Homo sapiens: one gene and its partners. The protein of the gene in region 3 purifies or fractionates together with the protein of the main gene of each other region. This does not show direct contact. Each region holds a gene or a part of one and is shown on either strand. Other genes may lie near its edges.

What was found.
Region 1: the proteins of KERA (region 3) and EFEMP1 purify together in Homo sapiens (co-immunoprecipitation; one large-scale study listed by IntAct). This does not show direct contact.
Region 2: the proteins of KERA (region 3) and EID2 purify together in Homo sapiens (affinity purification with mass spectrometry; 2 studies listed by BioGRID and IntAct, with this or other methods). This does not show direct contact.
Region 4: the proteins of KERA (region 3) and NUDT12 purify together in Homo sapiens (affinity purification with mass spectrometry; 2 studies listed by BioGRID and IntAct, with this or other methods). This does not show direct contact.
Region 5: the proteins of KERA (region 3) and BLMH purify together in Homo sapiens (affinity purification with mass spectrometry; 2 studies listed by BioGRID and IntAct, with this or other methods). This does not show direct contact.
Region 6: the proteins of KERA (region 3) and VWA8 purify together in Homo sapiens (affinity purification with mass spectrometry; 2 studies listed by BioGRID and IntAct, with this or other methods). This does not show direct contact.
Region 7: the proteins of KERA (region 3) and ITIH2 purify together in Homo sapiens (affinity purification with mass spectrometry; one large-scale study listed by BioGRID and IntAct). This does not show direct contact.

The regions. Positions count from the first base shown.
Region 1 is NC_000002.12:55,882,283-55,885,782, forward strand, and holds part of EFEMP1 (EGF-containing fibulin-like extracellular matrix protein 1 precursor), read right to left. Parts: intron 1-3,500. UniProt on the Homo sapiens protein: Binds EGFR, the EGF receptor, inducing EGFR autophosphorylation and the activation of downstream signaling pathways. May play a role in cell adhesion and migration. May function as a negative regulator of chondrocyte differentiation.
Region 2 is NC_000019.10:39,538,207-39,541,620, reverse strand, and holds EID2 (EP300-interacting inhibitor of differentiation 2), read left to right. Parts: upstream 1-1,459; 5' UTR 1,460-1,541; coding exon 1,542-2,252; 3' UTR 2,253-2,914; downstream 2,915-3,414.
Region 3 is NC_000012.12:91,055,225-91,059,378, forward strand, and holds the start of KERA (keratocan precursor), read right to left. Parts: upstream 2,801-4,154; 5' UTR 2,520-2,800; intron 1,066-2,519; 5' UTR 1,058-1,065; coding exon 172-1,057; intron 1-171. UniProt on the Homo sapiens protein: May be important in developing and maintaining corneal transparency and for the structure of the stromal matrix.
Region 4 is NC_000005.10:103,550,573-103,552,789, forward strand, and holds part of NUDT12 (NAD-capped RNA hydrolase NUDT12), read right to left. Parts: intron 1,845-2,217; coding exon 1,645-1,844; intron 400-1,644; coding exon 289-399; 3' UTR 1-288. UniProt on the Homo sapiens protein: mRNA decapping enzyme that specifically removes the nicotinamide adenine dinucleotide (NAD) cap from a subset of mRNAs by hydrolyzing the diphosphate linkage to produce nicotinamide mononucleotide (NMN) and 5' monophosphate mRNA.
Region 5 is NC_000017.11:30,250,824-30,253,944, forward strand, and holds part of BLMH (bleomycin hydrolase), read right to left. Parts: intron 1,411-3,121; exon of another isoform or gene 1,251-1,410; intron 1-1,250. UniProt on the Homo sapiens protein: The normal physiological role of BLM hydrolase is unknown, but it catalyzes the inactivation of the antitumor drug BLM (a glycopeptide) by hydrolyzing the carboxamide bond of its B-aminoalaninamide moiety thus protecting normal and malignant cells from BLM toxicity.
Region 6 is NC_000013.11:41,685,110-41,688,609, reverse strand, and holds part of VWA8 (von Willebrand factor A domain-containing protein 8 isoform a precursor), read left to right. Parts: intron 1-3,367; coding exon 3,368-3,500. UniProt on the Homo sapiens protein: Exhibits ATPase activity in vitro.
Region 7 is NC_000010.11:7,727,316-7,730,815, reverse strand, and holds part of ITIH2 (inter-alpha-trypsin inhibitor heavy chain H2 precursor), read right to left. Parts: intron 3,114-3,500; coding exon 2,988-3,113; intron 865-2,987; coding exon 683-864; intron 1-682. UniProt on the Homo sapiens protein: May act as a carrier of hyaluronan in serum or as a binding protein between hyaluronan and other matrix protein, including those on cell surfaces in tissues to regulate the localization, synthesis and degradation of hyaluronan which are essential to cells undergoing biological processes.

The DNA of each region.
Region 1 (3,500 bases), on a different chromosome or scaffold from region 3:
CTGTTTGTTTTTGCAAACAGCAGGGCAACATGTATGTATAAATCTTTCATTGCAAATTTCAGAATGCAAAGGATTCAATTTGATCATATTCCTCTAGCCTGTGTAGTTTAAAAATCCATATTTTCTCAAAGCAGTGTACTTCTTGGAATAATTTACTAAATGTGCCTTAATGAGTATGCAGGTTACAGTTCTAGAAAAGTAAAAAATGCTCAGTGATAGCATAATGAACTAGTTATAAGAAATTTCTTTCAGATCAAAAGGTGATATAAATTTGTGTGTGTACATTCATATTTACAGTAATTTATAAGTAAAATCTAATTTTGCCTTATCTGTATCACTTTTATATTCATTCGGCTCTCCTATATCATGAAGTTAAGTAGTACACAAAAAAGGATCATATAATTTCATCATTCTTCAACAACCACTCTAAGCTTCATTAACAATATCATAAAACTTGTGATTCCTAGATGACAATTTTTGTATAAAAACCAAAATACTACCCTGGGTCTACCACAGTGATGATTTAAGACCCCTGAGGCAGATTTCAGAGGTCTTAGATCATCACTGTGGCAGACTCATGGTAGTATGTTGGAAGAAAAAGTAGGGAAAGAATCAATAATAAAAAATTCACCCAATTTCTGTCTTCCCTCTAAGAATCTCTGAGAGTAGACCCTGAGGTTGGTTTGCCTTTCACTTTTCTGTATTTTCAAGGAGGACTGCGCATTTACACTATGCAGTATAATAATATATGAAGTTGAGATTGTAAAAGGGTTGTCCTCAGAAATCAGCTTCACTTAGCTGGGTGTGGAAATGATAAGAGAGATTCTTTCGATAAGAAAGAGGGAGGGGAGATGAAAAATACTTGAGTGATGTATGGCTATTTATTGGATAATAATCTATAAAGCATCCACTTACGTAATTCTTTGAACTTGGTTTTAAAGTTTTGGCTAAGGTTTTTGTTATTTTGTTTTGTTTTGAAATTTATTATAATTACTACTAGTATTATTTTCAAGTCAGTGATTACAAACTGTCCTTTTTAGGTACTATGCGATGGTGCAACAATCCTGCTTTGAAATTATCTGCTGTTTTTTGTGTCTTTTATTATTTTCTCAGATGCACTTGATGAAAACCTTTTTACTGGGGTTTCTTCAGAGCTTTATGACTCGTTAATGCAGAAATGACAGCAGAGTATCTATTGTTTTATGTCAAGAACATTTGCCAGCATTTGCAGTGATAACAGTCCTGAGAGATACGGCAATGTTAGATTCAGATGTGGCAAGTTTCCTCTGGCAGCAGATCAAGGCCCTGGGCTGGCTGCTGCATTTTCTAAGGGAGGCCTCAGCAGTGACTGAGGCTTTTCTTTTTGACATCTATCTGCAAACTGCCTCCACCCCGCTGCATTCCTACAACTGATGCCCTATGACTTCCTTCCTACTTTCTTGTTGCTCATTTCTTAGTGTCTGATAAATAGGCTAACATTTCCAGTGGAATTAATGTATCATTAAGTAGATTTTAAACACAAAAACCTGTGCTACTCCTTCTTAAGAATGAGGTCTGTTTACCTTCTGAGTGGGTTATTTAATAAAAATATTAGGTGAGTTAAATTAATAAAAACAAACAACAACAAAAAACAAATACCACTGTGCTCACTGCCACTACTTTCCTTCCCTTTCTCCACCAACACCCAAACAAAGCTGCAACAAGACTTGCCTCACCTAGGACTGACTGGTGATTACACATTTTACTTACTGGGACTCATAAAATTGTCAAAAAAGTGACCTCTGTGACCAGGAGGCAGCTACTAACTACATTTCCATTTATGGCTTCTCTGGCTGTGGTTTAGAATATTTATCCTCTCCTTTGCTGTTGGTGGTTTATCTAATGCTAAAGGCTATAAACAGACTGAATTTCTTTGACCTATTTTCAATTACGTTAATGTCAATTTATTAGTTTATTTAAATAACACAATATTATTTTGAAAATTATACTTTGAGATCCTGGAATTACTTATTTACACATCTATGCAAAGTCATATAAAATTATTATACATTGTTAAATTCCGTTATGTTTGGCTTTTCTACTTCTATGCATTTCCATTTGTCATAAATACCAGAAAGCTCACTATGATACAAAATTTACTAAAATGGACAATGATGTCAGAAACTCAAAGCAGAATACCCATCCCTGTGCAGATGCTCTGGAAAAGGTGGCTCTCCCAGGAGTGTTGATGACAGTCCACTGCCCTCTACTTGCTCCTGACTTCCCATAGTGCAAACACAGCCTTTTGTAGGTATCTCCATGGTGTGTAAGAAAAATCTGTTTCCTACATTTGTATGGGAGAATATCTGCATTAGCAAAAGCAATGCTTTATTTATAAGGGAAACTACTCAGGTCAGCCATGATTTTCCTGATAATCTAGGACAAATTACTATGGGGAGAAATTTTTTGTTGTTTTTGCATGATTATAATTTATCCTTGACAGTTAAGCTCACTTGGTTTTTCAGGCAGTCAGTTAATAAATTTCCTGGGACCTGGACCCAAGCTCTTTGGGTGGGGATGGGGGATCTATGTCTTATTTTCCCCCCTGTATTCCCAGTGCCTAGGATAGTGCATGAAACATGGTGGATTTTCAATAAATATTTGTGCAATAAATGGATAAATGAGTTATTACCATTTGCTGAGAATTGGTACCTAAAGTTTCAGGAAAAGTAGGATCAGTGTTTTACCTAATGGAGCTAAAAATGTATGAAGCAGAGTAACAAGGTATATCTGAGAAACACAGCAAAATCAGTAAGATGTTAGTAAAAGAAAAATGATGTTGAGCAAGTGAGTCCAGGAGTGCAGAGGCTATGAGGTATAAAGCAGATTCGCCAGAAGAGGTGGGTTCTCCACTGCATTTTGAAGAAGACGAGATACATGGGTTGCCAGGAAAAGGAAGCTGTTTCTAGGCAGAAAGCAGCTCACATTAGAAAATGCTGATAAGACAAAACTGGTTTCCATGAGAAGAATGGCAGACAGATGGCGTCAGCACAGCTGCCGGGGCTCTGTGTGAGGAGCCTGGTGCAGTGCCTGGTTGAAGAGGATCATGAAATGCTAGATCTGTCGTGAACAAAATTCAAGGCCTTAAAGGCAGGATTAGAGAGTCTGGATTGAACAACATAAGGAGTCTCTCTGAACTATGTAGACAGAGCCTAATGTTAACATTACCAAAGAACAAAATAATAGATTGTGCTTCCTAAAATACCATAACACATTTCGTCATTCTAATACATTAACAATAGCTAATGGCAATATTTGGTGATTCCCTCATTTTTCAAAAATGTGCCCACGTGCTCCCTCCTAGTGATTTATACTATTGTAGGTCCCTCTCTTGCTGACTTTGGCACCGTTAGTTGCTTTAAATAACACAGGCTAATCTTTGCTCAGCTCTTCTAGCCTCTTTATCACACCGACCCCCACGTCTAGGGAACCGCACATTTGATTTTCTCTCAAAGTTAATG
Region 2 (3,414 bases), on a different chromosome or scaffold from region 3:
CACTTTGGGAGGCTGAGACAGGCGGGTCGTTTGAGCCCAGGACTTTGAGACCAGCCTGGGCAACATAAGGAGACCCTGTCTCTACAAAAAAATTAAAAATTAACTGGGTGTGGTGGTGTACACCTGTAGTCCCAGGTACTCAGGAGACTGAAGTGGGAGGATTATTTGAGCTCGGAAGGTTGAGGCCACGTTGAGCTGTGATTGTGCCACTGCACTCCAGTCTGGGTAACAGAATGAGATGAAAGAAAGAAGGAATGAAGGAAGGAAGGAAGGAAGGGAGTGAGGGAGGGAGGGAGGAAGAGAAAATGTGAATGGATGAATCTCATAAAAATAATGCACAAAAAAACAGATACAAGTGTGTATGTGAGAAAACATTTTAAATGGTCCATTTCTGAGGCATGATAAATCTAAGTACTGGCAGCCAGCCTGCAAATATAACAAACTGCAGGGCTCATCCACCTAGAAGGTCACAATAAGGGAACAGAATGTAGAGGCGGGGTCAGCCCATAAAAGGGAAGAAAGTGGCCGGCGCAGTGGCTCACGCCTGTAATCCCAGCACTTTGGGAGGCCGAGGCAGGCGGATCACGAGGTCAAGAGATCGAGACCATCCTGGCCAACATGGTGAAACCTCGTCTCTACTAAAAATACAAAAATTACGCAGGTGAGTGTGTTTCTCACATAGATAAAGTTCAGAATACAAACCAAACTAAACTACAGCATTAGGAATGCACCCTTAGGTGGTAAAATGAAAAGAAAAACAAGAAAGTGATTACCATAAGTATCAGCATAGTTGTTACTTCTGCGTAGAAAGGAAAGGATAGTGATAAGAAGAAGAGGAAGGGTTCTGGGATGCTGGAAATATTCCACTTCTTGGACTGTGTGGTAGTTAAACGGATGTTCACTTTGTGATAAATCATTCAGCTGTATATTTATGTTTTGTTTACTTTTCTGCATGTTATATTGCACAAATAAGATTCGAAAAACAAATGTCCAAGGTAGTCAATGCAATGTTAAAGATAACACGAAAAGACTGTAATTACAAAGCTTTGGTAGCTAGGACGATCCGTATGGATGAAGACAGGCAAAGGAATGAATGAAAAACAATTTAAAAATCCAGAAAAGACCATGAATCTAAAATATCTTGATATATAATAGAGGTGGCACATAATCACTGGAGAACAAAGAGAAACACCCTAGGACAGAACCTTGAGAACGCCTACAAGAAGCGATCTTGTAAGCGTTCCTCATAAACATCAAACTGGTTGAAATGTCCCCCGCCCTTCGTCGTTGGGATGTTTCAGATGCGTTGGCGCTTCCCGGCCTCGAGGGGGCATCTGGAGAACGGCGGGCGCCGGGAAAGTACGCATGCGCACTGCTCCCAGGGTTTGCGGTAAGAATCTATGCTCTCGCGCCCGGTTACGCACACTGCATTTACAGCGCGCATAGCGCCCACGCACGCGCACTGGGGTGTCCGCCGGGCATCGCTCTGTCCAGTTATTCCAGTTTCTCTGGGAGCAGCCGAGTTGACCCCACGGTCTGAGATGTCCAAGCTGCCCGCAGACAGCAGTGTCCCGCAGACAGGCGCGGCGAATGGTGACAGAGACGTCCCGCAGGCGGAGGTAGGCCGCGGGAGGCGGGAGCCGGCCCCGGCACAGCCTGAGGAGGCCGGGGAAGGCGCGATGGCGGCGGCCAGGGGAGGCCCGGTGCCGGCGGCCAGGGAAGGTCGGATGGCGGCGGCCAGGGCAGCCCCGGCGGCGGCAGCCAGGGGAGCCCCGGTGGCAGCGGCGGCGTTGGCCAGGGCAGCCGCGGCGGGCAGGGAAAGCCCGGCGGCGGCGGCGGCCAGGGAAGCCCGGATGGCGGAGGTCGCCCGCTTGCTGGGGGAGCCAGTGGACGAAGAGGGTCCCGAGGGCAGGCCCAGGTCCAGACACGGGAACGGAGGCCTGGCTGCGTTGCCCTATCTCCGTCTCCGCCACCCACTTAGCGTTTTAGGCATCAATTACCAGCAGTTTCTCCGCCACTATCTGGAAAATTACCCGATTGCTCCCGGCAGAATACAAGAGCTTGAAGAACGCCGCAGGCGATTCGTGGAAGCCTGCAGAGCAAGGGAAGCAGCGTTTGATGCCGAATATCAGCGAAATCCTCACAGGGTGGACCTCGATATTTTAACCTTTACGATAGCTCTGACTGCCTCTGAAGTTATCAACCCTCTGATAGAAGAACTTGGTTGCGATAAGTTTATCAATAGAGAATAGTTATGTGGTGACACTACTTCAAGAGAACCTCTGCATTCCAGTCATACCAATCCTGCAACTTGATTTTCAGAAGTCAAGAGTATATCGCGATAAGACAGTGCACAGGTGGAGGGGAAAAAAAGGGGGAGGGGGAAGCTTATCTTGAAAAAGCATCACAGAAGTAGAAAAAAATGTCGAAAGCATTATAACTGTAACGTTCTTTGAGTTTGTGATTGATCCACATTTTTCCCCCTGCATTATGGAAAATGTCTCTCAGCATTGCTTTATTACAAAGTAAAGGATGGTTTTATAAAATTGAGACTGATGAAACATCAATACTAGAGCCCATGAGGATGAAAGAAATTATCAAATAGTGCTGAACAGAATAAGATGTTAACGCTGAGTTATTAGGACTGGAAGGCTATGAAAAGAACTTGAAATTGTCGGAATATGTGCTCTCTTCATGTCATATTCAATAGAAGTTTCTAGTTTAAGATTGATTTTGTGTTTTCTTAGGCATTTCAAGTGACAAGCAAAGTAAATGTATATATTATGTGATAAATCATGTTTTCAAGAACGTCAAATTTCTGGACTTTTTTCTTTCAATTTTTAATTTTTAAAGTTTTTTTGGTATTAAAAAATCTATTCACAAGCCAAAAAATATATAAAATATACAGCGAAAAGCCTTCCATTCTTGTTTTCCTCCATCCAGTACCAACGATGACCTCTAATAGCCACAGTTTCCTTTCCGTCCTTCTAGTTTCCTTACGTGTACACAGGCACATATAAATCTGGGTTTACTTGTTTTATTTCTTCACAGAAGTCGGCATATTATATTTACTGGTTTATACATTGCTTTCTCATTAAGAACATATGTTGACCCTTCCAAACCACTGTATTTCCTCATTATTTTTTAAAGTGGCATTTTATTCCATTCTGAGGTTATGTCCAAATTTACTTAACCAGGGATATATTGACGGACATTTAGGTTGTTTCCCATCTCTTTCTTTGGGCAGAATAAAAAATTGCTAGAGTAGTTCATCTTGTACAATTGCTAGAGTAGTTCATCTTGTATATCATGTGGCATGTGCACAAATATAGTATTGCTTCAATTCAAAATTCACTTCATATTTGAACATCTCTGAAATGTGGGTGCATCTTATATTTGATGCTGTAATAGATC
Region 3 (4,154 bases):
AGACTGTCTGCGTATAGACAAAATTTAATACTGAAAATTGAAAACACACTAAAAATCTAAAGGAACATTAGCGGGGGAGGGGGCAACACATTTGCTCTTCTTAATGAAAATAAAGATACATTTAATGACCATGAGCCCTTTAGTCAAAGACATACTCTGCAGGTTACTTACTTTTAATTTTGTTATGATCAAGGTGAAGGTGCTGCAGATGAGCACTGATTCGGGGAACCTTTGTGAGTTGATTGTGCGACAGTTGAAGATCTAGAATTGATGATACATCAAATCCTCTTGATGGGAGACCCTCATCTGACAGTTTGTTGTGATTTAGTCTCAAAAAGGCCACTTTAGGAATCACATTAAAATAATTTTCTGGTATTCCTTCAATGGAATTGTTGTCTAAAAACAACTGCATTGTATTGGCTGGTAATCTTGGAGGCATATTCCTCAGGGCATTCTTGGCCATGTTTAGCTGCATGAGATTCTTGAGTCCTTTAAAAGTGTCTCTTTGAAAGGCATTGTCCACTAATTTGTTGTTCTGTAGGTCAAGAAGGGTCAGGTTCTCCAGATTGCTAAAGGTCCCTTGAGGAATTCTGGACACCTTATTTCTAGCTAATTGTAATTGTTCTAAACTTCTTGGCAATGGAGAAGGTACCTCCTCTAGCTCATTATCTTCCAGAAATAAGAAGAGCAACTTCTTCAGCTGGCTTAGGGCTCCTTTTTCAATTCCGTAGTTGGTTATTTTGTTCTTGTTTAGATTTATCCATCTTAGCTGGGTGGCATTCTCAAATGGCTTTTCAGGAATGGTTTCTATCAGGTTGTTTTGAAGATAAAGATACCAAATTCTTGAAGGAATAGCAGGAATTTCTTTGAGACCTCTATTTTCACAATATAAAGCAGTAGGAAAACTGGGTGGGCAGAAACATTCCATGGGACACTCGAAGTCATGAATAGTCCAATCATCTGAATCATGTACTTCATAGACCTGCCTCACACTTCTAGACCACACAGTGTCTGTTATGAATAACACCCACATGATGAAACAGATTGTGCCTGCCATTATAGCACCTACAGAAAAAGGAACACAACTGTTAGATATTTGAAGATCTTGACCTTTAGATAATTTTATACATCAAAATGATCAGTAAACATTGCTTCTTCAGGGAAGAGGTGAAAATATGTCAACATTTCATACACAGATCTTAATTAATATACATTAGTTAGTAGGCACCATATGCAAAGCATTTTGCAAACATTGAGAATAATTCACCGACTTGTAGCTTTCTGGTTGTAACCCAAACACAATAAAAGCCGAGAAATGGAAAGAAAATTTTAGCAGCTCTAAGTGTTTTTCCATTTCAAGCTATTTAATTTAAAGAACTGAACTGAAACCAGTAGTTGAATATGAGAGTACAAAAAAGTGATCTTTTAAAAACTCAAACTGGGAATCTGTGTTGTTCCTGAGAGGAAAGCATATGCTTTTACTTTTACTCTTAAATGAGCAGAACATCTGGATGAGATTTCCTAGGCCTTTTGGCCCTTGAACCAAAGGAATGAAGGGATCAAAGAACATTTTAGCACTTTATGGTGAAGGAAGGTTCTAGGATCTGAATAAAAATGTAATTAATCTGTTATTCTCTAGCTCAACCTCTCAAGTAAGTTTTTTGAGGGTGGGGGAAGATGTCTATAATTTTAAGCACACAATTAAGTTGTTCAGCCAAGCTATTGAATTATCAATTCTCTCTCTCTCTCCCTTTCTCTCTCTCTCTCTCTCTCAGAGAATATGTATATTCTGTCTCTATATATGTATATATATGTATATATAGAGATAGAGTTTATTATATAGAGTTGAATACATTGTGATGTATAGCACAAGTACATGAGTATTGTATTCAACTATGCCATTATTATGGTTGATAAGAAACAAAAACAACCAAAAACATATTTAGGATACGGGTGGAGAATTTCTTTATATTCATATTATCAGTGTGGATAATGGAAAGTAGGTTAGCGTTTACTAATATTTGATACATTTAAAACACATAAACCCTCCCCACTGATCATCAAAGATTATTGGTACAAATAATTATTTTAACAGGAAATATACATATATATTTTAATAATTTATAGCATACATATGTTACATATATATTTATATATATATATATATATCAGTAACATTCTGACCAATGTACATTTATTGAACTGATTGATAATAGGATGAAATAAATTTTACTGATTCCTTAGGAAAAGATAAAGTCAACTTCATTTATGAAATGCTGATCATTCAATTTTGCCATTAAATTGCAGAAAACAAGTGCAGAACTGCTTCTGCAAGCTGTCAAATTTTCTAGGATTGCAGAACGCTGCTCTGGCCATGTTCCAACAAAGAAACATCATTTTTTTTTTTCTTTTTCAGAATAGGGTTTTGGTTTAGTTATTGAAGTTGTAACCCTGCGTCTGTTGAATAAGTACTTTGCATGCTTAACTTTAAGAGTTTTTAAAAGTGCAAAATAGTTTACCTTGCCTTCCAGGAATACACCGTTGAGTCCTGTGTCTCAGTCTGAGGTTTGCTAAAAATCAGTTAAGAGAAAAAAAAAAACTTTGACGAAAATAATTTGTTTTTACTTTAAGCTGTCAAGTCGTCTATGAGAAACAGTGAAACCTACTCGTCCCAGTCACCATGAACACCTTTGATCTATTGTTTCCACTTTGACAGGGCTTCAGAAGACTGCTTACCTCAGCCTTCTTGGATCTTCTTCTTCCTTTTCTATTGGTCACTGCTTGTACATGGTAATGGATTGACCCAGGCTCCACTGTCGTGTTTTTATGAATCCTCGGTAAAATATATGCACTAGTAGATCCAAATTTAACCCCTCCAACAACCACGGAATCTTAGTGCCTACACAGCCCAGCAAAGGAAATTCTTACTTTAATCCTAATAACTCATAAAAAAATTTCTAGGCAATTTTCATTCCTAATTCACAGTTCAATTCATTAGTATATGTTGTCATGTACTGATATCCAGACCTTATTTACCAATAGGCAGCTGAAGGCAGTTTTAAAGTATAACAAAAAGATATTTTAAAAGATTTTAAAACATTTTCCCTAGATGATCATTTCTTAAAAATTGAATACAAATAATTAAAAGCCAATGTCTTCTGTTTATATGGACATATTTTATCTGTTCCTGATATAAAATAGATGCTGTAATGTGTTTGACTAAGGGAAAAATAAATAAATATATGTATTTGAAAAAATGTAAATGTGATATCTGGAAAGCACTACCTGATTTTGGTGCTAATCTTGGTATTATGCTTTTTTTCAGAGAAATAATTTTTGTATCCCTATTTCCTATTATATTTCTTTTAACAATTTATTCCAAGTACCTGCTAAGGTGGGATAATTTTTTATTCATTATAATATAACACATGTTTTGCATATAGTCCCTTATGAGACATTCTGTTACACTGCTACTTTTTTCTTTAACACATATCTAAAGTAGTGTGTCCTCCACTTCTGATACTTGATGAAAAAAAATTATGCTTCTTGAGAAAAGATGCAAACAAAAAATATTTCATTTAGGTGTTATTATGTGGATTGATTGTTGTTTTGTTTTTCAAAATCTCTCTTATTCTAGCTTCAGTGAATGTTATATGACTCATTTAACAGCTCACATGAGTATTGTCAAAGAGCACCGTGAAGAGGATTAAGCATTGGATTCAGAGGACCTTTTGTGAACCACCTCTTTCCTCTCTCCTAACCATAGGAGGGTAAATTAAAGTTCAGTTTTGTCATCTACAAAATAGTAATGGATTGCTTCACAGAGTTAGGTCTAGTTTGTTATAAACAATTACAGAAATAATAGCCTTATTTGGAATTAGCCCTACACTCTCAACTGGAAAATGCATTTATATTAAAGGGTTTTTATAGATTGAGATCCTATTTTGACATGATTTTTTACTAGTCCTATAGGTATGTAGGTGTACTCACATCACATTTTAAGAAGACAACCAAGTGTTACTTGCTTTCTCACAACAATTGTCTCCTCTCTCTGTTGCATTTCTCCCTCTCCTTTTCCTAAACCCTCAGGATTTAAACAACAGATGATCTTCAAATCTGCATGGCCCTCTTCCAGCTATTGTCTTACTGTTGAT
Region 4 (2,217 bases), on a different chromosome or scaffold from region 3:
TTAGAAAAATGGTTTTGTGAGATAAAACTGTGAAGGAAGAAAAGAAACCAAGAGAGAAAAAGTTCAGAGAAGACTGACCCAAATTTAACATAATCTGAGGCAATATTGTAAAAATGTGTAAAAATATGAATTTGTGATTAAGACAGAACACTTTGAAAATATTTCGAAAACCCAACATCGTATTTTGTGTTGTGACACTCTCAAGAGTACTGAATAATCTCTAATATCACTTGAGGAATGAGTGTTATTAGAAATTATTAAATAATACTCAAAGCTTAGTTCTTAGATTTAGAGATTAGGATTTATTCTAATCCAGTGTTTGATTAATTGATGTGCAATAGCTCGGCTTGGTGGCACAAAGAATGCCTGCTGCTTCCCTTTGGTCAGAACATCCAGGACCTAAAACACACCATAATAGAATGCATTAGGATTTCAAAGCTGTCATATTTAAATACTATTCCCATGTTTACATAATTCAATTAAAATGTGATGAGTTTTACAGTGAATAACAACAGTAGAAAGTGACAACATCCATATTTACATGCAAAGTTTTTTTTTTTTTGGAAACAAGGTCTTGCACTCTGCCACCCAGACTGGAGTTGCAGTGGTGGGATCATGGCTCATTGCAGCTTTGACTTCCTGGGCTCAGGCGATCCTCCTGCCACAGCCTCCCAAGTAGCTGGTACCATAGGTGCACCTGGCTAACTTTTTAAAAATTATCTGTAGAGACAGGGTCTCCCTATGTTGCCCAGGCTAGTCTCAAACTCCTGGGCTCAATCAAGCTTCCTGCCTTGGCCTTCCAAAGTTCTGGGATTACAGGTATAAGCCACCACGCCCCGCCTCAACATGCAAAATTTAGGACAGCATTTTTAATTGCTTCACTGAGTAAGTGATTCAGTTTCTAAAATGTTCCAGAAAGACACATTCCCTTATGAAAATGACATCACGAAAAAGCAAAATGTACGCTCCACACTTAATTTCTAAGCAAAGCCAACTTTTGAAACAGATTCTTTTTTATAAAATTCATAAGCAATAATCTAATTTCCATCTTTTAGGATTAAGCATAGAATAAAATTAATTTTATGCAGGCAAAGTCAGAAAGAATTTCAGGTCAGATGAGTAATTTATCTTTTAATATATTATTTAGGAATGACATTTTAGAAAGTTATTTTAAGTGTATGTTTATTATACAGTTATGTCATTCTTGTCCTTAAGTACATTTTAAAATGAATAAAAACTTTCTGAAAATTTTAAGCACTTACTGATGTTTTTTGAGAGCTACTTGTTTTAATGTTATAAACTAAAATATAAAATGTATAAGAATATTCCTGTTTCTCATCTATGAATTAATGTTTTTCTAAACCCACTGATAGGTATTATTATTTATGTGAAGGAATGGAATCTGAAACTCGAAATGGTACAGAATCATCTCTACTAGAAAAATCTCATAGAATAAGTTAATATAGATCACATTAGTGAAACATACTCCTCCTGTATGGAATTACTAATTACCATGTAATCCATGCATAATGAGAGGGCCAAAGGCATCATTCAACTTGCTGAAAATATGCATCCTTGCTCTGTGACCAAACCAATACAGTCAGGGAACAATCAATAGAAGAAGGAAATTAAATTGAACTTTACCTGTTCTCTAGTGAACCAGCGGGCATCCTCTATTTCATTCTTGTCAACTTTAATTTCTGTAGACACTGCTAGAGCTAAGCAACCAATCATTAAGGAGGAAGGCATTGGCCATGGTTGACAAGCAACATACTGAACATGGCCAACTTTGACTCCACTTTCCTCTTCTACTTCTCTCCTAACAGCATCTTCTATTGTCTCTCCTAATGAAATGGAGCAAAAGAACAAGTTGCTGATGAACATGCCCGGGACACTTTGTGTCCTGAATGGTTCAAACATCTGGAAATCACTTTGGACAGAAACCCAATGCAAATAATCAGAAAGCAGAAGCCTAAAACTAGACTGTAATTGAAGAAAACAATTTTTTTAAAGTACATGACCACATATAGAATATCAAAATGCCAACAATAAACTTTTCGTTTTTTTAAGGTACAAATTTGTCAGTTACATTTTAAAAATAATGATACCATCTAAAAATATCCAATACCTAATACTGGTTAAACACTATGCAAACACTTTATATCTTATCTCATGTATATATTGTCCACGAAATAGTTATAAATTACATGATTTTTA
Region 5 (3,121 bases), on a different chromosome or scaffold from region 3:
AACCAACCTAAGTGCCCATCAACCAACGAGTGGATAAAGAAAATGTGATATTTATACATCATGGAATATTATACTCGGCCATAAAAAGGAAAAAAATAATGTATTTTGTAGCAACTTCGATGGAGCTGGAGGCCATGATTCTAAATGAAGTAACTCAGGAATGGAAAACCAAATATCATATGTTCTCACTTATATAAGTTGGAGCTAAACTATGAGGATGCAAAGGCATAAGAATGATATAATGGACTTTGGGCACTCAGGATGGAAGAGTGGGAGGGGTGGAGGGATAAAACAAAGACAACATACCAGTGTACACTGCTTAGGTGCTGGGTGCACCAAAGTCCCAGAAATCACCACTAAAGAACTTATCCATGTAACCAAAACCCACCTGTTCCCCAAAAACTACTGAAAGTTAAAAAAACAAAAACAAACAAATCTGTTCTTTCAGGAACAGATCTCCAAAAAACTTAAATGGGAAAAAAATGCTTTACCCGAGCCATTGCTAATAAGAAGAGCAAAATTAAAGTGAGAGACTGAAGTCCGTATATTTAAAACAAGAATGGGCTGCTGGGCCACAGACAGAACACAGAGCAAACGATGTGTACTGAATCAAGAGAAAGGCAGGCACACACATCCAAGGGCTCCCGGACTAGCAATGGCCATCAGCACCACGACTGTCATCTGACCGTATCTGCTACTTGTTTTATAGTAAACACTGGAGCCATTTTTCTCTGAAAGTTTGTATAAACCTAGGCCTGTGCTATACCATTTCCCACTACACAGGACCAAGAGAACGGAGAAGTAGGTGTTTCTAGCAAGAGGGTCCCCTAGTGAGCAGTTCTCATAAACCTAGGCCTGTGCTATACCATTTCCCACTACACAGGACCAAGAGAACGGAGAAGTAGGTGTTTCTAGCAAGAGGGTCCCCTAGTGAGCAGTTCTCAAGCCTCTTGGCCTCAAGCCCTGCCCTTTACATTCTTAAAATTATTAGGGACCGAAAACATTCTTTATGTGGACTAATATCTATCATTATTTACTATATCAGAAACTAAAACAGAAAGTTAAAAATATTAATTCATTTAAAAATAAGTATGAAAAATGAATATAAACAATATATTTTGAGGAAAAAAATTATATTATGTAAAAAAATATTTTTAGTTAAAAAAGTGGCATTGTTTTACATTTTAATGTCTAGATTTGCAGAAGACAGCTGAATTCCTGTATCTGCATCTGTGTTTAATCTGTTGCAGTATGTTGTTCTGCTTGAAGCAGATGAAGGAAATCCAGCCTCACACAGATATGTTGCTCAAGGGCAGACCCTGCACACTCCCTGAAAGGGCCCTAGGGAACCAAAGATCACACTTTGAGAACTGCTGCTCTTGAGGCAAGACTGGATTAAATTTAAAGGCAACAATACTGGTAAGTCTAATTTTGTATGCTAAAAGGTGTGACAAAGGGCATTATTTAACCTGAAAACACAATTGATTTGGTGAAGTCATCTATGCCCAATCCTGTTTTTCACCCGACAGAAGTCAAAGACAGATCATCCTGACGTGGCATAGCATACGTTTACCCTCAAAAACACTGTGGAGGCCAGGTGCAGTGGCTCACACCTATAATTTCAGCACTTTAGGAGGCCGAGGCAGGTGGATTGCTTGAGCCCAGTTGTTCAAGACCAGCCTGGGCAACATGGCGAAACCCCATCCTCACAAAAAAAAAAAAAAAAAAAAAAAAAATTAGCTGGTGTGGTGGCCTGAGCCTGTGGTTTCAGTGAGCCAAGATCACACCACTGCACTCTAGCCTAAACAGAGTGAGACCCTGTCTTGGGGGTGGGAATGGTAGGGGTTGGGAGTGCTCTGTAAAAGTGTTCAAGTGCTCCGACCAAGGCAGGTAAAGGAATGCACTCTTGTCTCCTGATAAGCTGGCCTCCTGGATCCAGGGCCCCTACTTTCAATAGACGAGAGACGGAAGGACAGTACAGGCCCACTCTGTAGCTACTTCTGGCTTGTCTTGATTATATATTCCAAACTTCCTGGCTTTGTTGGTGTCAGGACCTGGCCCTTAATTAACATCACCCACACCAGTGCCACCAGGTTCTAGCAACAAAAGTTCTGTCCGCTCAAAGGTCAACCAGTGCGTATTATTTAAAACTAAAATACTGCATCCTAAGTGAGTGCTTCCTGAAAAACTAAGCATCTGCCTTCCCAAAAAGGAGCTTTCAGCAAGCAGGAGAGCAGACTAGGGAACACCACACTGTTTGAGACATTAGTCGTCCCTTCCCTCACCACAATGCAGGCTGAATAAATCACTGCAGTGGCCCTGGGCAGTTAGGCAGGTGAAGGATAGAAGCAGATTCATGTAATAAAATTCTGTGTCCTTTCAACAATACTATCACCATACAATCAAATGAATCTTCAAAGAATGCTCCCAGAAGATGGACAATAAGTACATCTACACTATCTTGTTCCAAAAGCATATCAGATTAAGTCCTCACAAATTAAAATTCCTATCAATTGTAACCCACCCTTTCAATGTCCCTGCCAAGAGGACCCGCCTTGATTAGTCTCTCTCTTCAGGATATGAGTTCTTTGGGGACCCACAAAAACCTCACAGTCTAGGTAGCTGCCAAGTAATTGCGCCCTATGTAGATAATGAACTTGTGGCTGCCGTAACTGTTGACACTGTGTGTCTTGGAGTTTGACTGAGAAGATTAGGATCAGTGTGTCTGAAACCTGTGTAGGAAGCAGCAAAGCACCGGCTCAGGCAGGATTCGGCTGGCCCTTTTGACTTGCGGGAAGGTGCAGCTCCTAACCCTTAGACACACTGGCCGTGAGACACAAGCATTCCAAGGAAAAAAGAAAAGAAAACAAAATAAAAACCTGCTCCAGGGATCCCAAGGTTACACTGAGTGAAACACAGACAAATAGATAAAGTCAGCTTTAGGAACTAAGGTGAAATTAAATTTTGTTTAAACTTTAATGTCTTGTTTACATGCGATGAGAAAGAAAGAAAAGTGAACAGTCCTCAAAACAAAACACCTCAAACCAACCAACCAACCAAAAAACACTGGCAACGTTTCTGTATTTTGTAACAGAAAGGGTAGGGTCAGTCTGTAAAGGGA
Region 6 (3,500 bases), on a different chromosome or scaffold from region 3:
CATCCAGGTTATAGTATAATGGCTAATTGTCTCAATTGATTTTCCTCTTAGATGGGCCCTTCTGTTATCTCCTATTACCTATAAAGGAGAAGCTATTTGAATTGACTGTAGGTGAAACTGGGCGACATCTTCCTCTGATGGAAATGTGGGGAAATTAATTATAAAAGTTATTTCAGTCCAAGTTGCCATCTAACAACCTTAGATGTAGCTCCATGTGTTCTGACTAAACATTTAATTTTTATAATTTCCTTTGTAGCTTTTAGATGGGATGATAGAATTATTTAAAGATAAAAATATGGGCTCTGCTTGACGGTACTCCAATTTTGTATGCCTCAACATTTTAATATAGTTAATGAATGCTGGGTACTTCAGGATATAAGATTTGAAATCTAAAACTCAATGGATAATGTGGCTTAGGACTCTGATGTATGTTTTCCTAATTATCAAGTTAAAAGCATCTGCTATCATGTAATTCAAAATGAAACGTTATTGAAATACAGTGTTTATAGCAGCCTTGATATGAAAGAGATGTGTTTTATATGCTTTCTACAATGTTTGCTGCTGTAAAAAAAAAATTGGGACTTTTTCTGGAGATAAAACTATTTTAAAAATTGATCTTCTAATTACCTTCTTCTGATTGAAGAAATCAATATAGAAGTATAATGTTATTATAAAAAGTTAGAAAATAAAAGCTAAGTTAAGGCACTGTTTCTATTAACCTTGTAGAAATTCTTATAGCCTGTAACACTAGTGACCTTGTTAAATTAAAAGCTATATCCCTGCTACTTAGTGTGGTACCTACCACATAGGAGGTATTTAATGAGTATTTGTTAAATAGAAGATTAGAGTCAGCTAGGCAGCCTTTAAGATGACAGTAATACTTTTAGGCCACAACAGAATAGGCAGTGTGCTGCTCTAAGCCCTTTCATACATGATAGTTAATTTTTACAACAATTCTATGAGGTTTTACAAATGAAAAAAATAGAAACAGACAGAGCTTATATCCCCTAGGCCACAAAGATTATAAGCAATGGAATTTGAGCTCAAGTGTGACTAGCCAGCCCTCTAACACACATCCTTTTACCACACCACACTGCCTTCTTGCTTTATGTGAACTTCTTTGGATTATGTATGAAACTATTGACAAATGAGTATGCTACCTCTTATTAACTTTTTCATAGAGTTATCAGTGGCATCTAAATTATTACTTGTATAACTTTTAAAATCTAATACCAAATAGCTATAAGAATCTGTAGCAAATATCATCCTCAATGGTGAAACATCAAAAGTATTTCTTTTCTTTTCTCATTAGAAATAAAACAAGGTTGCCCACTGTTACCATTCTATTAAACATGGTAATAGTGTCTTAGACATGATATATAAAGAGAAAATTGATAAATTGTGCTGCATCAAAATTTAAAATTTGAGCTCTGTTAAAAGACACTGTTAAGAGAATGAAAAGACAATCTACAGGCTGGGAAAAAATATTTGCAAACCACATTTCCAACAAAAACTGGTATCTAGAGTCTATAAAGATTCTTAAAACTTAACAGTCAGAAGGCAAATAGCCTAATTTTACAAATGAGCAAATAGTAGGCCAGTGTGAGTTATCAAAGATCAGAGCCCAAGCAAGGTAAGGACATCTATGGTGGGGAGAGGTAACCACTAGTGATGGACGTTAAGCCCAAACAGGATGAAGATGGCATTCCTGTGAAGGGGCAGCCTGGAATGGGATGTAGGAGCCCAAGTAAGGTGAAGTATGTGTCCCTGTGTGAGTGCAGCCCCTATGGGCTGTCAGAACCCAAGCAGGTAGAGTGGAGCATCTGCCCAGGGAGTAAGGTTAGTGGTGGAGATGGGAGATGGGTCACATACAGTGGACTTGAGCAAGAAAGTAAATATATGAAGGGTAACAAAATACATTAAGGATAATGAAAACAAATTTTTAACTGTTGGAGAGGGGAATTACAGATACTGAAAGGAAGAAAACTAGAATGAACCATGTAGTTATTAGATTGGAATTGGATATATTTTTGTGAACTCATAGATTTCAATGTATTTAGGTAGATATAGAAGTAAAATTAAAGGTAAATGTGAAAAAAAAAATGAGCAAAAGACTTGAACAAACACTTAACCAAAGAGGATAGAGGGATGGCAAATAAGTACATGAAAAGTTATTGGACATCATTAGTCATTAGAGAAATGCAAATTAAAACCATGATGAGATACTAGTACCTACCCGTTAGAATGGCTAAAATAAAAAAAACACTGACAATACCAAGTACTGATAAGGACGCAGAGAGCTAATGCAACTCATTATTGCAAGGGCAAACAATAACCAGAACATCTCTGAAGAAGGACCAGACAGAAGTACTCTTCCTATTAAATTTCAAGGATAATTATAAAACTTCAGTAACTAAGACCATGTATTGGCCTGGGAATAGAAAAATGCACCATAGAACAAAATGCAGTGCCCAGAAACAGATACCTGCATATAAACTGTGTTTTATGATACTGTTGCTATGGGCAAAAGTTAGTGGTATTTGGACAATAAACTATACATGTGAGAAAAGGATGAATGCAGATCCCCACTTCATACCATTCACAAAAATTAATTCCTGATAGGCTAAGGACTTCACTATGAAAGATAAAGCCTTAAAACTTTTAGAAAAAGCATAAGAAATTATCTTTATGATCTTAGGAAGGATAAATACATACGTGGTAAAAATTTAAAGTAAAGCAAGGGAAAAATAACACAAAATTCCAGAAGAGTTAAATCTAGGGGAGAGAGAGAATGACTGGGAAGGGGCCCAATCACTTTTGAAGCCCTCCCAGGGCTTTAAAAATGCTAGTTATGTTCTATTATGTATAGATGTTTACTTTATTTTTTAACTAATTCCTATATTTCTTCTGTTTAGTTGTAATTGATTTCAAGGTAAAAAATTTAACTTGTATATTTTACACTTGTCTGAAAATTATGATTATTGACAAAGCAGCTACCTCCTTCCTGTACCACATCCAAATGACTTTATTTATTTTTTGTTTGTTTAAGACAAGATCTCCTCAGTAGCTGGGAATACAGACATGTGCCACGATGTCTGGCTGATTTTTGTATTTTTTATAGGGACGGGGTTTCACTATGTTGCCCAGGCCAGTCTCAAACTCCTGAACTCAAGTGATCCACCAACCTTGGCCTCCCAAAGTACTGGGATTACAGGCATGAGCCACTGTACCCAGCCAATAATTTGATTTTCTTATACCTGTGAAACATTAGTTTCCCACTAGTATCTGCTTAAAGGGCTGCGTTGTTAAGGTTGTGGTGAATGTAGTATATGGTACTTCAGTACTTTAATCTCTTTCTTTTTTTCAGTCACCCAGTGAAGTTTATTCTTGGAAGAGACCATCATCTTTGCATAAACGAAGTGGCACTGATACATCATTCTATAGAGGAAAGAAGAAAAGGGGGACTCCAAAACAAAGCAATTGTGTGACTCTTTTAGATA
Region 7 (3,500 bases), on a different chromosome or scaffold from region 3:
CTCTTACTTGTTCCCAAATTTAAATACGATGCCTGGTACTGACAAAGAGCAGGGAAAAACATGTTCTTTCCCTACATCATTTTCTCATCTATTTAATCAAAACAAACAAGTAGTTTGTGTCTTTTCAATATATGTATTTTAATTAAAAAAATTATCTGTTGAACAGATGGATCTCACTATGTTGCCCAAGCTGGCCTTAAACCTCTGGGCTCGAGTGATCCTCCCACCTTGGCCTCCAAAGAGCTGGGATTACAGGCATGAGCCACCACACTCAGCCTGTATCTTAATACTTAAGAAAATTTACACTGTGAAAAATTGATACCAAGATGCCAATGCACGTTAAAGAGAAAACGGTTGGCCATGATGATAAGAAGACCAATTGCTGGTGGGGCAGGAGAGCTACAAGGAGCTTTGATGACGCTCAGAAGGCCTTTTTGTTCAGGGGGTAGGACAGCTGTTCCCAACACCCATCTGCCTCATACCTCACTGTTACTGCAGAAATATGAGGGTGGGGGGAAACATGTGAGAAAGGAACTGGGCACTTCCCTGATCCTTGCAACCAAATATGGCTGAGATCATGACCATTTTGAGTTAAGTTCAGTTATGCATCATACCTGCATCAGATATGGGTAGTTAAATGATTTCCAGTGAAGAATAAAAAAAGAACAGAAGAAAATGTTACCTTAAGCTGGGAAGACGTGTCCTGGTTTCCATAAATCCTTTGTGCAATTCCATGGTTTTCATTGGACAGTCTCTTCAAAAAATCATAGTCCACATCAAATCCCATGCCCAAACTGAACAAGGAGATATTGTCTTGGATGTTCTCCTTAACGTTTTTCTGAATTTTTGACAGTTTTAGTTCGCCTAAAGTTGGTGATGTCCGAAAGGAAAGGAATGAAGAAGCAATATCATAAATTTTCTGGAAAATCCAGGGAGGGCAGTTTAGTAAAGTGTGTCCAGATTAAAACTGCATTTCCCTTTTGACCCAGTAACTCAATTTCTAGTTTTTCTTAGAGATGCACTCGTACATGTTGAAATGAAGTGTGGGTTGTGTTGCATAGCAACATTATTTGGGAATTAGCAACATATTGGAAACAACATAAATATGCACCAATGAGGGCGCTTGGTTAGATGATGATACATTTAAACCGTGAGATACTATGCAGCTATTAAAAAGGACATGGAAACTCCTTATGTATGTATACCAGACAATCTCAAGGGCATGTTTAGAGGAGAAAAAAAAAACAAGGTAAATATCAGGGTACCTAGGATGCATTTGCATGCATGCATGTATAAATGTATGTATGTGTATGTATGCATATACACATACATGTGTGCAAACATGTATATATAGTATACAGGCATGCATAAACTATTTGTGGAAAGATACACAAGAAACTGGTAACCAGTGACTGATTCCAGGGACAGGAACTGAATGGTTGAGAAACAGGAGTGAGAAACCATGATTAAACCAAATTATGGTTTAATTTTGTTTTTTTTTTTGAGACAGAGTCTCACTTTGTTGCCCAGGCTGGAGTGCAGTGGCACGATCTCAGCTCACTGCAACCTCCGCCTCCTGGGTTCAAGGGATTCTCCTGTCTCAGCCTCCCGAATAGCTGGGATTACAGGCACACGCCGCCCTGTCAGGCTAATTTTGTATTTTTAGTAGAGATGGGGTTTCACCATGTTGGCCAGGCTGGTCTTGAATTCCTGACCTCAGGTGATCCACCCACCTCAGCCTCCCAAAGTGCTGGGATTACAGGTGTGAGCCACCATGCCTGGCAAGTTTAATATTTTAAACTATATTTCCTTTTCCACCTTATGATTTCATTCAAAACTTGAATTTTGAAAATAATCTGATCTGAGGGAGAAAACATTGGCTCTACAACAAATACATAACACTGGCTCATTCTAGTCTCGTTATTAATAAGATGGTTGCTCTCTGGCTTTCTAAAGCTCTGACTGCCATTGTTTTTGCCTCGTGCATTTTCATTCTGCTTGGCTGTGTCAGGACGTGTTAGACTCGGTCCTAGTCTGTACGACAGCACACTCAGGCAACACAATCTGGCATTCGCTATTACTTACAGTGGCCAGAATAAAGACACAAGTAAAACAAAGATAGCTTGGCACAGTGGCTCACACCTGTAATCTCAACATTTTGGGAGTCCGAGGTGGGAGGACTGCTTGAGCCCAGGATTTTGAGATCAGCCTGAGCAACATAGTGAGACTTCGTCTCTCCAAAAAAAAAAAGAAAGAAAAAAAAGAAATTAGCTGAGTGTGGTGGTGCACACCTGTAGTCCCAGCTACTCAGGAGGCTGAGGTAGGAGGATCACTTGAGCATGGGAGGTTGAGGCTGCAGTGAGCTGTGTGTGCTCCACTGCACTCCCTCCTGGGTGACAGAGCAAGACCCTGTCTTCAAAAATAAATAAAATAAACTAATGTAACAAAAATAAAAATAAATAATAGAAGTAGGGAGATGTTGCTGCCCATTTTGTAGAAAGAAAAATGTTTAACTTCAAGGTTGTGTCAGAGAGCAGTCATTTCTCCAGGTGCAACCGGGAGAAGTGTGGAGAATAATAGGGAATATGCTACTGTGGCCTCCAAAGGTACTGCTGGGAGATCTGGGATCAATACTCATCATTCACCACCCCCATACACCATCTTCACATACCTCAAGTTGAGGAAATAGATGCATTTCCCTAGAATGCATCAGCAATCCTCACAACATACTATTAAAATTCAGACTCAGATTTCTGCATATTGTGGAGGTGGAACTGAGGCATTCAAGAGCGCCCTTGCTGAAAGTGTCTGAGCAGTAGCTTAAGGGGTGAGGGCTGCAGGATCAGAAGACCTCCTTTAGGAAGCATGGGTTTAAAATGTTCTAGAAACTCAGGCAAATGCCATTAGAGTTCCCCTTTTAGGCAAACCACCATTCCAAGAAACAACAGTGAAAGTGTTTGTCGTGAGAAGGTTGAAGTGACACTTGCCCACTGTTGGATCTCCATCAGAAACCAAAATGATCAGCGAGACGGAGTTGGGGTCTAACAGTCCCAAGTTATTGGCTTCATTCAAAATGAAGATTGCCCGTAGGAGTGCTTCGTTGATGTTTGTGCCTGTTGAAGTAGCATAATGAAACGTTGGGTATGCGTTCTCGCCACACGCAGAAAATCCCATTCTGGATTCAGACTCATATGTCGGCTGATCACTTATCCATCACTTATTCCATGCCAAAATCATTTCATTGCTTTCTGAGTGACACAAACTGTGCTCAAGCTGGTGGTCCCCCAGTGCAGTGAAATATTCACTTTGAAATAAACTATCCCCTTAGAGATGAACTAGCCCTTTCAAAGCACAGACTGTTAGCTTGTTAAACACCAGATTAAAGTATCCAAATCAGCCTTGCCAAGATACTCTGAAGATAGTAACATTTTATGCTTTATGCAGGCAATAAAGAAGGCCAGTGTCACTGAACCTTTTTCTGAGAGACATTAAAACGGTTC